Linked DNA regions of Homo sapiens: regions 1 and 2 are each linked to region 3. The links come from fine-mapping of genetic effects on gene expression. A gene starts in region 3. Each other region holds a variant in brackets. All regions are shown on one strand. Distances are from middle to middle.

Region 1 (4,205 bases), 190 kb after region 3:
ATCTCCCAATGTGATTGTCACGTCGGCCTGTATCTCTGGGGGGAAGAAAATGACAGTTGCTTTTATATTTATATTCAAAATTAGCATAACATGCTTAGCCAGCCCGAATGCCAACCAAGGAATGAGAGTAGGGGCAGTGCTTCAGTGGGATCCGGGACTTGGAGAACGAGGTCCTGAGACCCTTAGGTGGCCTTGAGGAACCTGTGAGTCTGAGCTGGAGCTGGGCTGCCACCGTCCCTGGCAGGGTCTTTGTGCTTGACTTGGTATTAGATTTGGCACTCCCATAACCTTGGTTTATACCCCTGGCTCCTGCTCTCTTTCCTTGCCTTTGCAAATGAATAAAAACTCTGGGTGGGGGTGCAGTGGAGAGAAGATGCAGAACTGAGCCCACATGAATGAGCTGATTCCTACTCTAGATGTGGAACTGGACCATGCTTTCTACCATTATCCAAAGAAAGAGGTTAATTAAACAAAGGCACCAAAGGATCCAGGCCACATCTAGAGGAGGGCTTTCTGACTAGATTTAGTCTGATAAAGGCTGAGTGTGTTGGGTTGGTTCCCCCTGAAGCAGACCCTACACCAATGACTCCAGGGCAAGTCGTTTATTTGGGAGGCTCAGGGAACACAGATTCCTGGTCTTACCCATATCTTCTGACTCATGTGCTGTAGCAGAGGAGCCCAGGAGTCAATGTTTTTCTTTAACACACACTGTGAGGTGCTTCTTTGTGTCTGGTGAGCTTGGGAGCTTGTGCCCTGGTTGGTAACAAGCCTGCGTGCCCCTTCCCCAAGAAAGGGAGACCGGGATCATTTAAAATGCCCTGTGTGACCCCAGAGGCAGGTATATCTGAACTGCCCCCCAGTCCCAGTATTTTGGATGCCTCATTTAAAAGTGATTCCCATCACAAATGGTGTTCCCTCAGAGCTGTGAAGATCTGCCAGCTGAGGCAATAGTTTCTACACTTTTAGATTTCCTGGACCAGAATATTTCAAAAAAGTGATCTAGAAAATGACATAGAGCCACCTAATTTTATTTTGCCACGAAAGGACATTTAAAATCAAACATTGAGATGTTTGGAATAAAAATGGTGGGAATCCGTTGATCGCTTTAAGCATGGGAATAACACCATCAGATTTTTATTTTAGAAAAGGGCACTTGGGAAGATGCTGCCGTTGGTTCTGGAGTTCTCAGATCTGATTCTCTATTTTATGAAGATCACATGGTTAGTGTGTTAAGCATTTGTAACTTCCCCTCTAATTCTCCTTTGCGTAACCGATTAGCATACGGATTAAGAACCTTTTGGGAAATCCAAATGTAAATGCAAATGTAAATTTCAGAACTCAGAGCAACTTAAAACACTGTTTCTTGAATTCACACTCAAGTTTTATATTCCTTTCTCATGTTTATCCTTCTATCACCCAATTTCCTCCTTGTGGGATATGAATGTTCTTGGTTATGGTTGATCACTCATAACTTTTTCTGTCTGTTTTCTTGATGCATGCTGCCTCTGCCAAAATTCCTCACCTGCGTTGACTTCTACAGCCAGAAACTGTAATCTTAGGTCTAAAGGTAAAGTCCTTGTCTGCTATTTCAAGTTGCTCTTGGAAAGCCTTTCTGTTCTTCACTGTCATCCTCACTGTGAAGATTTTTAAATGATCCGTTTCATTTCTGTTTTTACCATCACTTTTAACCTTCTCTTTGAAGAAAGATATCTCTGTAATATTTACATGTTGATCTTCAACACAATCAACAAAGCACTGGAAGATCTTGGTGTATCAAAAAACAGTTTAAGTAGTGACAGGCCTTCGTCTAGTCGGCCTAGAAGTGAACTCTTGAAATGCC[G/C]TATCTTGTTCCTGATACTGCCTGATATTTAGTCAGTAACATTAGAAAGGCTGTGTTATCAAATGTACAATTTGTATTTAAAGCTAAAATTAGTGCATTTAAAACATTTCAATATATCTTCTCTCCTGGGTTTTGGTTCAGTGTCTCCTGGAATTCAGATAGAATTTACATTTCTTTAAAATAGTAAACAATTTAGAATATTTGCTGAGAAATGATGGAAAAATACGTAAGTAAGAGTTTGGAATGTCTGGGCTGGTTTCTTAACTGACAAGTGGTATTGGTCCTCGAGGAAGGGTTAAGTCCCCTAATAATGCCTCTTCGTGGACATGGGATGGGGGTTAGCTTAAGCGTGAGCACATACTTGATGAACCCAGCAAGATTCAGCCACTCTTTTTTTTAAGCAATTTAATCTTAATATGGAAGTAGATAATATTCAAGTGCCAGATGCACCAGATTTACTAGTCTTGAGCATTTGCTCATAGAGTTAACTACCATTTATTGAATATCTACTGTGTGCTGGGCACTTGGCTAGTTGTTTTCACATTCAGTCATTTAGTTATTTGTCCCTCACAATATGTTTATGAAGTTAATGCTAATGTGACACCATCCACTTTAGGGACCTGGAAGCCCCCTGCTGGGATGTAAAGCAGGTCTCTCCTCCAAGACATCACATTTGCTCCCAGGAACAAGACTCGTGTTTTATTTTCCTTTGCTCAGCTTGGCTTCAGAATTCGCAGCTGTCTAGATTGTCCATTTAGTTGCAAACTGCCAACTTGCAATTTTCTGCCATTCTTTAGAAATATAAGCAGCTACATGCATGAATTGGAATGACATCAAGTTTCATCATCTAGTTGCATTAATTTTCGTTTATCCCGGAATAAAGTCAGCAGTGATTATGAAAATATGTTTAGGTCACATGATTGTATCTAGAAATTGTGCTGTTCCTAGGAACTCAGGAACCGTCTGAGACACGGACTGCCAAGGTCGGTCCTTCACTGTGGATCTGGCTCCTGGGCATGGCATGAGAGGCACCTTTAGTAAGTGTCTACTCAGTGCTTGGTCCTTTGTCACATTATTTCTAATCATGCGTTATCTCTAATTTTCACAATGACTTGACAAGGTACGTATTATTATTTCCAGTGTATCAGAGGAGGAACCTTGTGACTGGCCTGTGTTTAACGTGCCTGACTTAGAGTCTGAGCCTTTTTTCTAAATTAAGATACATTCCAGATTCTTGAGTAATTGTTTGCCAGCCAATCCAAAGTGCTTTGAATCTTTAACTTCTATTTTTGCAGTGTGCAAAGCGCCTTATATGTAGATTGTTATGCAAGTACTCCTGCCAAGATTTATTGATCCATTTAAAAACAAACAAAATACCTTTGGGGTTAAAATTAAACCATTTGCAGCTCAAACTAGCATTTAGACATCTTCCTAGGGGTTGAAAGACATCTTCCAGTAACCACTTGGCCATGTATTTAATTACTCAATTCTCTGCTTCCTCTGTTTCAAAAAGGAGTTTCAAAATGGAAAAAAATACATACATATATATATATATATATGTACACATTCAGATTCAACTAATGATGGCAGATAGGTTAAAAAAATGAAACATGGCCAGGTGCGGTGGCTTACACCTGTAATCCCAGCACTTTGGGAGGCTGAGGCAGGTAGATTGCTTGAGGCCAGGAGTTCAAGACCAGCCTGGACAACATGGTGAAACCCTGTCTCTACTAAAAATACAGTACTCGGGAGGCTGAGGCCCAAGAATCGCTTGAACCCAGGAGGCAGAGGTTGCAGTGAGCCGAAATCGCGCCACTGCGCTCCAGCCTGGGCAACAGAGCGAGACCCTGTCTCAAAAAAAAAAAAAAAAAAAAAGAACTTTGTACACCATGGAATGTTCTACTTATTATTTTGTGCTACAATATGTGCTGTTTCTTTTGTTTGAATTGCAGATTGTCTACTATGAAGCAGGGATTATTCTATGCTGTGTCCTGGGGCTGCTGTTTATTATTCTGATGCCTCTGGTGGGGTATTTCTTTTGTATGTGTCGTTGCTGTAACAAATGTGGTGGAGAAATGCACCAGCGACAGAAGGAAAATGGGCCCTTCCTGAGGAAATGCTTTGCAATCTCCCTGTTGGTGATTTGTATAATAATAAGGCAAGTACAATATTGGACAACAACTGATTGTGTTTTAGGCTGATGAAGAGTGTCTCACATTTTTATGGTTAAACCATGAGTTTAAAACTAAACAAAATAGCAACAATGAAAAAAAAACCCACCAAACAGAAAAGAGAGAGCACAAGCGCTTGTCTAGAGTGATTCGAAAGGATCTCATTATCATCAGACATTAGCGTTGTAATGAAG
Region 2 (4,205 bases), 180 kb before region 3:
TGACACCTCGCACGGCTGGGTACTCCTCTGAGACAAAACTTCCAGAGGAACGATCAGGCAGCAGCATTTGTGGTTCACCAAGATCCACTGTTCTACAGACACCGCTGCTGATACCCAGGCAAACAGGGTCTGGAGTGGACCTCTAGCAAACTCCAACAGACCTGCAGCTAAGGGTCCTGTCTGTTAGAAGGAAAACTAACAAAGAGAAAGGACATCCACACCAAAAACCCTTCTGTACGTCACCATCATCAAAGACCAAAAGTAGATAAAACCACAAAGATGGGGAAAAAGCAGAGCAGAAAAACTGGAAACTCTAAAAAGCAGAACGCCTCTCCTCCTCCAAAGGAACGTAGCTCCTCACCAGCAACAGAACAAAGCTGGACGGAAAATGACTTTGAGGAGCTGAGAGAAGAAGGCTTCAGACAATCAAAGTACTCCGAGCTACAGGAGGAAATTCAAACCAATGGCAAAGAAGTTTTAAACTTTGAAAAAAAATTAGACGAATGGATAACTAAAATAACTAACGCAGAGAAGTCCTTAAAGGAGCTGATGGAGCCAAAAGTCAAGGCTCGAGAACTACGTGAAGAATGCAGAAGCCTCAGGAGCTGATGTGATCAACTGGAAGAAAGGGTATCAGTGATGGAAGACAAAATGAATGAAATGAAGTCAGAAGGGAAGTTTAGAGAAAAAAAGAATAAAAAGAAATGAACAAAGCCTCCAAGAAATATGGGACTATGTGGAAAGACCAAATCTACGTCTGATTGGTGTACCTGAAAACGATGGGGAGAATGGAAACAAGCTGGAAAACACTCTGCAGGATATTATCCAGGAGAACTTCCCCAATCTAGCAAGGCAGGCCAACATTCAGATTCAGGAAATACAGAGAACGCCACAAAGATACTCCTCAACAAGAGCAACTCCAAGACACATAATTGTCAGATTCACCAAAGTTGAAATGAAGGAAAAAATGTTAAGGGCAGCCAGAGAGAAAGGTCGGGTTACCCACAAAGGGAAGCCCATCAGACTAACAGCAGATCTCTCAGCAGAAACTCTACAAGCCAGAAGAGAGTGAGGGCCAATATTCAACATTCTTAAAGAAAAGAATTTTCAACCCAGAATTTCATATCCAGCCAAACTAAGCTTCATAAGTGAAGGAGAAATAAAATACTTTACAGACAAGCAAACGCTGAGAGATTTTGTCACCACCAGGCCTGCCCTAAAAGAGCTCCTGAAGGGAGCACTAAACATGGAAAGGAACAACCGGTACCAGCCACTGCAAAAACATGCCAAAATGTAAAGACCATCAAGGCTAGGAAGAAACTGCATCAACTAACGAGCAAAATAACCAGCTAACATCATAAAGACAGGACCAAATACACACATAACAATATTAACTTTGAATGTAAATGGGCTAAATGCTCCAATTAAAAGACACAGACTGGCAAATTGGATAAAGAGTCAAGACCCATCAGTGTGCTGTATTCAGGAAACCCATCTCATGTGCAGAGACACACATAGGCTCAAAATAAAGGGATGGAGGAAGATCTACCAAGCAAATGGAAAACAAAAAAAGGCAGGGGTTGCAATCCTAGTCTCAGATAAAACAGACTTTAAACCAACAAAGATCAAAAGAGACAAAGAAGGCCATTACATAATGGTAAAGGGATCAATTCAACAAGAAGAGCTAACTATCCTAAATATATATGCACCCAATACAGGAGCACCCAGATTCATAAAGCAAGTCCTTAGTGACCTACAAAGAGACTTAGACTCCCACACAATAATAATGGGAGATTTTAACACCCCACTGTCAACATTAGACAGATCAACGAGACAGAAAGTTAACAAGGATACCCGGGAATTGAACTCACCTCTGCACCAAGCGGACCTAATAGACATCTACAGAACTCTCCACCCCAAATCAACAGAATATACATTTTTTTCAGCACCACACCACACCTATTCCAAAATTGACCACACAGTTGGAAGTAAAGCACTCCTGAGCAAATGTAAAAGAACAGAAATTATAACAAACTGTCTCTCAGACCACAGTGCAATCAAACTAGAACTCAGGACTAAGAAACTCACTCAAAACCGCTCAACAACATGGAAACTGAACAACCTGCTCCTGAGTGACTACTGGGTACATAATGAAATGAAGGCAGAAATAAAGATGTTCTTTGAAACCAACCAGAACAAAGACACAACATACCAGAATCTCTGGGACACATTCAAAGCAGTGTGTAGAGGGAAATTTATAGCACTAAATGCCCACAAGAGGAAGCAGGAAAGATCCAAAATTGACACCCTAACGTCACAATTAAAAGAACTAGAAAAGCAAGAACAAACACATTCAAAAGCTAGCAGAAGGCAAGAAATAACTAAAATCAGAGCAGAACTGAAGGAGATAGAGACACAAAAAGCCCTTCAAAAAATTAATGAATCCAGGAGCTGGTTTTTTGAAAAGATCAAGAAAATCGATAGACTGCTAGCAAGACTAATAAAGAAGAAAAGAGAGAAGAATCAAATAGACGCAATAAAAAATGATAATGGGGATATCACCACCGATCCCACAGAAACACAAACTACCATCAGAGAATACTACAAACACCTCTACGCAAATAAACTAGAAAATCTAGAAGAAATGGATAAATTCCT[G/C]GACACATACACCCTCCCAAGACTAAACCAGGAAGAAGTTGAATCTCTGAATGGACCTATAACAGGCTCTGAAATTATGGCAATAATCAATAGCTTACCAGCCAAAAAAAGTCCAGGACCAGATGGATTCACAGCCGAATTCTACCAGAGGTACAAAAAGGAGCTGGTACCATTCCTTCTGAAACTAGTCCAATCAATAGAAAAAGAGGGAATCCTCCCTAACTCATTTTATGAGGCCAGCATCATCCCGATACCAAAGCCTGGCAGAGACAAAACCAAAAAAGAGAATTTTAGACCAATATCCTTGATGAACATTGATGCAAAAATCCCCAATAAAATACTGGCAAACCGAATCCAGCAGCACATCAAAAAGCTTATCCACCATGATCAAGTGGGCTTCATCCCTGGGATGCAAGGCTGGTTCAATATACGCAAATCAATAAATGTAGTCCAGCATATAAACAGAACCAAAGACAAAAACCACATGATTATCTCAATAGATGCAGAAAAGGCCTTTGACAAAATTCAACAACCCTTCATGCTAAAAACTCTCAATAACTTAGGTATTGATGGGATGTATCTCAAAATAATAAGAGCTATCTATGACAAACCCACAGCCAATATCATACTGAATGGGCAAAAACTGGAAGCATTCCCTTTGAAAACTGGCACAAGACAGGGATGCCCTCTCTCACCACTCCTATTCAACATAGTATTGGAAGTTCTGGCCAGGGCAATTAGGCAGGAGAAGGAAATAAAGGGCATTCAATTAGGAAAAGAGGAAGTCAAATTGTCCCTGTTTGCAGATGACATGATTGTATATCTAGAAAACCCCATTGTCTCAGCCTAAAATCTCCTTAAGCTGATAAGCAACTTCAGCAAAGTCTCAGGATACAAAATCAATGTACAAAAATCACAAGCATTCTTATACACCAATAACAGACAAACAGAGAGCCAAATCATGAGTGAACTCCCATTCACAATTGCTACAAAGAGAATAAAATATCTAGGAATCCAACTTATAAGGGATGTGAAGGACCTCTTCAAGGAGAACCAGAAACCACTGCTCAATGAAATAAAAGAGGATACAAACAAATGGAAGAACATTCCATGCTCATGGGTAGGAAGAATCAATATCGTGAAAATGGCCATACTGCCCAAGGTAATTTATAGATTCAATGCCATCCCCATCAAGCTACCAATGACTTTCTTCACAGAATTGGAAAAAACTACTTTAAATTTCATATGGAACCAAAAAAGAGCCTGCATCGCCAAGTCAATCCTAAGCCAAAAGAACAAAGCTGGAGGCATCAGGCTACCTGACTTCAAACTATACTGCAAGGCTACAGTAACCAAAACAGCATGGTACTAGTACCAAAACAGAGATATAGATCAATGGAACAGAACAGAGCCCTCAGAAATAATGCCACATATCTACAACCATTTGATCTTTGACAAACCTGAGAAAAACAAGCAATGGGGAAAGGATTCCCTATTTAATAAATGGTGCTAGGAAAACTGGCTAGCCATATGTAGAAAGCTGAAAC
Region 3 (4,205 bases):
GTTCGGTTCACTGCAACCTCCGCCTCCCGGATTCAAGCCATTCTCCTGCCTCAGCCTCCCGAGTAGCTGGGAATACAGGCGCCCGCCATTACGCCCGGCTAATATTTGTATCTTTAGTAGACACGGGGTTTCACTATGTTGGCCAGGCTGGTCTGGAACTCCTGACCTCGTGATTCGCCCCCTTCGGCCTCCCAAACTGCTGGGATTACAGGCGTGAGCCACCGTGCCGGGCCCTCTCTCTTCTATTTAAAAGGATAGGCACAGCCTTTGGAACTGAATGTCTTTCCTCAGGCCTCATAATAGAAAATGAGGAAAGTCCATTCTGACAACTGGCTGCCTTAGGCAACAGAATTTGGGATTCCTACCCTTCCAGCTCCTGTTGAGTCAAAGGCAAAGGCAATAACCCAATAAATGTGGTGAGACAGTAAATGGAAACTGACATAAAAATAGCAATAAAAGCCTACTTCCTTCTTGACAATCAATACATAATGGAATGGGTATGATTTTACACCATAAAACATCAGAGAATAATAGAATATGGGCTGAAGAAAGCTCAGAAGCCACAACATTTTCCCCACCTTTTGATTTTCAAAACGATTCTTAAGATTTGTCGGGAGTATTTGTTTTCAATTGTTTCAGTGAGGCTCAGTTTTGACCACATGCAACCAAAATAGAGAATTTCATGGAGGATGGTCACAGGATTGGCTTAGAAAAATGTAATCCTGTGAGCTGTCCCCTTTCATAAATAATAAGGTTCCGACGGCTGCACCGAATGTTCCTCCTTTCAACGAGGTTGGGCCGAGGTTGGGCTCCCAGCTGCTGGGACATTTTTAGTCCATCTTGGACTCTCACCTCTGCCTCCTGCTCAGCTGTCAGAATGCCAGGCGGCTCTGCAGCCCAAAGCCCACTCCGTTTTAAACTTGCTCGTTTGCAATCACGTAACCCGCTACTGACGACAGAACCCTCAAGGCCCATTTATATGCGGTTCTCAAGTTTAGGTCTAGGGAAGTTTCCAGGAAGCTTAGTGTTCGGGGAGGAATTCGTTTTGCTTTTGCTAATCAAAGAGACACAAAAGCACAGCTGAGTCCCGAAGCTGGCACACGGGAAATCGAGGTACCACTGTCCCCTCACCGGAGCGCGCAACAATCACTTGGGGAGCGGGGAAAAGGTTTCCACCTTCCCCGAGCCTGGGGCACCTTCGCTCCCACCGCCCCAGCTGGTGGTGGTCTCGACACCACGCTCGTTGCGGGGTCACACGCCAGAGCTGGAAAGGGGAGGTCCAGCCCCAAGTAAAGCGACAAAGTAAGGACACAGTGGTGGCCAAGGGCTGTCTCCTAACCCCAGTCCCGAAAGACAGTGTGGAAAGTCCGCCGGCGCGCCAGCCCTTGAAACTCTGCCGGTCCGGCCGCGGCCCCTCCCCTGCGCGTCCCCACCTGTTGTGAAGCTGCCCAAGCTCCTTCTTGCCCAAATGCTTTGGAAACTGCCAAAGGACACTCAGAGGCCAGGGAATGTAACAGGCAAGCATAAATATGCAGAAGAGATGGAACCAAAATAGCGGGCAGGCAGGGCCGGCGCTCGTGGGGGTCGGTGATCTGGAGCCGGGCCCCCGCCGCCGCGGCCGCGCCAGCAGTGCCAAGACCTGGCGGGCGGCGCCGGCGCACTCCGGGCACCGAGTCTGCAAAAGAGGCCCTGAGCGGACCGCCGGACACCTCGCAGACTGCGGGCAGCGGTGGTGGCGGCCGCCTCTCCGGGGCTCCACGGCCGACCCGCCGCCCGCCGCCGCCATCCCCGGCCCGCTCCTGCCGGGTCCCCGACTCGAGCCCCGGAGGCGCCCGCTCTGCGGGACCGCGCAGCCCGGCTGCATGGAGCCCGGCGCGGTGCCCCGGCCGGCCGAGCCAGCCACGGCGCGAGAAACCGTCGCCCGCCACGGCGAGGGCAGGAAGAAGATGGCGGCTACCGTGGCGGCGGCGGCGGCGGCAGCGGCCTCACACGCGTCGCTGACGCCAATGGCTCGCGCCGGTCGGCGGGCCGCGGATGGCGGCGGCGGCGGCGGCGGCTCGGGCTCCGGCGAGGGGCGGGGCGAGGCGGGGAGGGGGCCGGCCGGAGGCAGAGGCTGGAGGGAGGCGGCGGGGACAGTTTGTTGTGCTCGGAACATGGCGGGCGTCGGCGACGCGGCCGCTCCGGGAGAAGGCGGCGGTGGCGGCGTGGACGGCCCGCAGCGGGACGGCCGCGGCGAGGCGGAGCAGCCGGGCGGCAGCGGCGGACAGGGGCCCCCGCCGGCGCCTCAGCTCACAGAGACGCTGGGCTTCTACGAGAGCGACCGGCGGCGGGAGAGGCGCCGGGGCCGCACAGGTGAGGCGGGCGGCGCTAGGCCGTGGCGGGCTCCGAGGGGCGGACTGGGGACCGAGGGCGGCGGGGGCGCCTTGGAACCCCGGCCCCCGAGCCGCGCGGCTGCCGTTGCCTCCCGGGGCTCCCCAGGCTGTGGGCGCGCGGAGCCGCCGAGGCTGCCGAGGCTCCGCGGCCGTTGACAGTTCCTCGGGCGGGTTGCGCGCGCAGCCCCGAGGCCCCCGCGGCCGCGCCAGGCCAGGTGTGCCCTAGAAGGGGTCTGCGGCCGGGAAAGTTCTGTCCGGGTCCTTGCATCGCCCTCGGAAGGTCTTAGGTTAGCGGGCATCTCCCACGTCTCGGAGCCCAAACGTGAGAAGCACACGGCTGATTTCTTAATTATATTCATGCCAAGGTGACTTTTTTTGTTCTGTATTTTAAGCAAACTTGAGCCATAGAAACCTGTTAACTTGCCCTGCAAGTAGATTTTTCACAGACAGCTGACGGTGTGGTAGTGACCATGAAGTTCAGTAGTTTTGCCCAGTACAGAAATATTTAACACTCCATAAAATGTTGCATCTGAACTTTTCCTGAACTGAAACTTATGCCAAAAAAATTACTAGATGAGAAAATGTGTACTTATGAATCCTACATTCAATGACCAGTTTTAAACGTATTGTTACAATGTTACAGTTTCTATAAGCTGTAGGTTTTTATTCTCATTTTAAAAGAATTTTTAAAACTTGCATTTGTATTCATATTGCAGTTACAGATTAGTTTTAAATGAAAAAAGGTTTTGAGATGGATGTCTTCTTGAATATAGAGTGAACCCAACGTTTTAATTCTCAAGCTGTAAACAGCAACTGAACCATAACTCCATTAAATTTCTTCCAACTAAAAAATTACTTCTGTTGTCCAAAAGGGGCTGTGTTAGCCGTTATTTCCTGAAGTTCATGCAAATAACTAAGTTGTGAGGCTGATTACATCATTGATTGTACTTGAGTACTGAAATTTTAAAACTACTTAAGGGGCATAAAGTTGATCAGATGCGATTCTAATTGATTTGCTGATTCCCAGAACTGGACGTAGGTTCTATTTGAAGCAGTCTATATTTTTGGAAAATTACAGACGGTCTTGTTTGGTCTTTTTCAATTAACCACTTAAAAATTCTCAACCATACTTTATTTGGTTTAGTTCTCAGTTAAACATTTGCTTTCAAGAGTATTTACTTTCTTCATTGGCAGGATCTCAGTAAGACAAAATAGCAAATCTCTCAACTGTCTGTTTACTTACTTAGACTTGAATATTAAAAGCACTCTGTTGTAAATAGAGATAGATGTAGCCAGGCTTCACTATACTTTCTTTAAAACATTTCTCAGTTGCAGGAAAGCCACCATTTTAAAAGCCTTTTTTTGTTGTTTGCGTGGAGAGGAAATGAAGTTGTTTGAAGCCTATTGATGAGCACAGATCTTGAGCTTGCAGTATCACTTAACACTTCTTCCCTGGCTTTTTCTGGGACTGGATACCTGGACTTCCATGGACTTCATTATACCACGTATCCATTCTTCACCAACATGGTTCACCATGTTTAAGGCTGGATTTTTTTTAACCCATAGTTGCAGGAAGTCATTATCAGGGAGATGCCTCCAGGTTTAGCTGTTGGGGTAGTCCTTGTTCTTTCCCCAGTTCCATTGATTTTGTGTGAGGAGATGTCAGTGGCCACTCCTGCTTTACCAAGTCACACTAGCCTTGGCGATCAGGATTTAGGTGAGAATTCCAAATTCCAGGAGTATTTCAGCTGGAGCCACTGGCCAGTGTTCTCTCTGAGCCTCCACATAAGCCCCTCCTTCTTTTCCCCTGGTGTCCCTGCTCTGCTAGTCACA

Alleles and levels. Alleles are on the strand shown, and positions count from the first base shown. SD is a standard deviation of normalised expression in the study named. Not every link is listed here.
For the expression in aorta of the gene that starts at base 2,140 in region 3, G is the high allele of the variant in region 1 and C is the other (moderate effect, 0.43 SD a copy in GTEx).

Evidence for each region. PIP is the estimated chance that this variant, and not a neighbour inherited with it, causes the effect.
Region 1: its variant is the best candidate, but not a certain one, in a credible set for the expression of TAPT1 in aorta (GTEx, PIP 0.62).
Region 2: its variant is the best candidate, but not a certain one, in a credible set for the expression of TAPT1 in whole blood (INTERVAL, PIP 0.62).

Annotation. Positions count from the first base shown.
Region 1 is chr4:16,033,097-16,037,301 of GRCh38, reverse strand. It overlaps PROM1 (prominin 1), which reads left to right. Exons shown (of 28, transcript NM_006017.3): 4 at 1,541-1,567; 5 at 3,793-3,998. Among named protein-coding and RNA genes, the nearest start is that of PROM1, 49 kb to the left of the region's middle. The variant G/C (reference allele first, on the strand shown) is at 1,841.
Region 2 is chr4:16,403,588-16,407,792 of GRCh38, reverse strand. The region is part of intron 1 of LOC105374505 (a long non-coding RNA gene); the gene reads right to left. Among named protein-coding and RNA genes, the nearest start is that of TAPT1-AS1, 180 kb to the right of the region's middle. The variant G/C (reference allele first, on the strand shown) is at 2,659.
Region 3 is chr4:16,224,406-16,228,610 of GRCh38, reverse strand. TAPT1 (transmembrane anterior posterior transformation 1) reads left to right here and starts at 2,140. Exons shown (of 14, transcript NM_153365.3): 1 at 2,140-2,352. The coding sequence starts at 2,154. TAPT1-AS1 (TAPT1 antisense RNA 1) reads right to left here and starts at 1,948. Exons shown (of 3, transcript NR_027697.1): 1 at 1,434-1,948. RefSeq lists an enhancer at 1,028-1,087 and silencers at 1,598-1,797, 1,858-1,927, 1,938-2,037, 2,048-2,097, 2,208-2,587.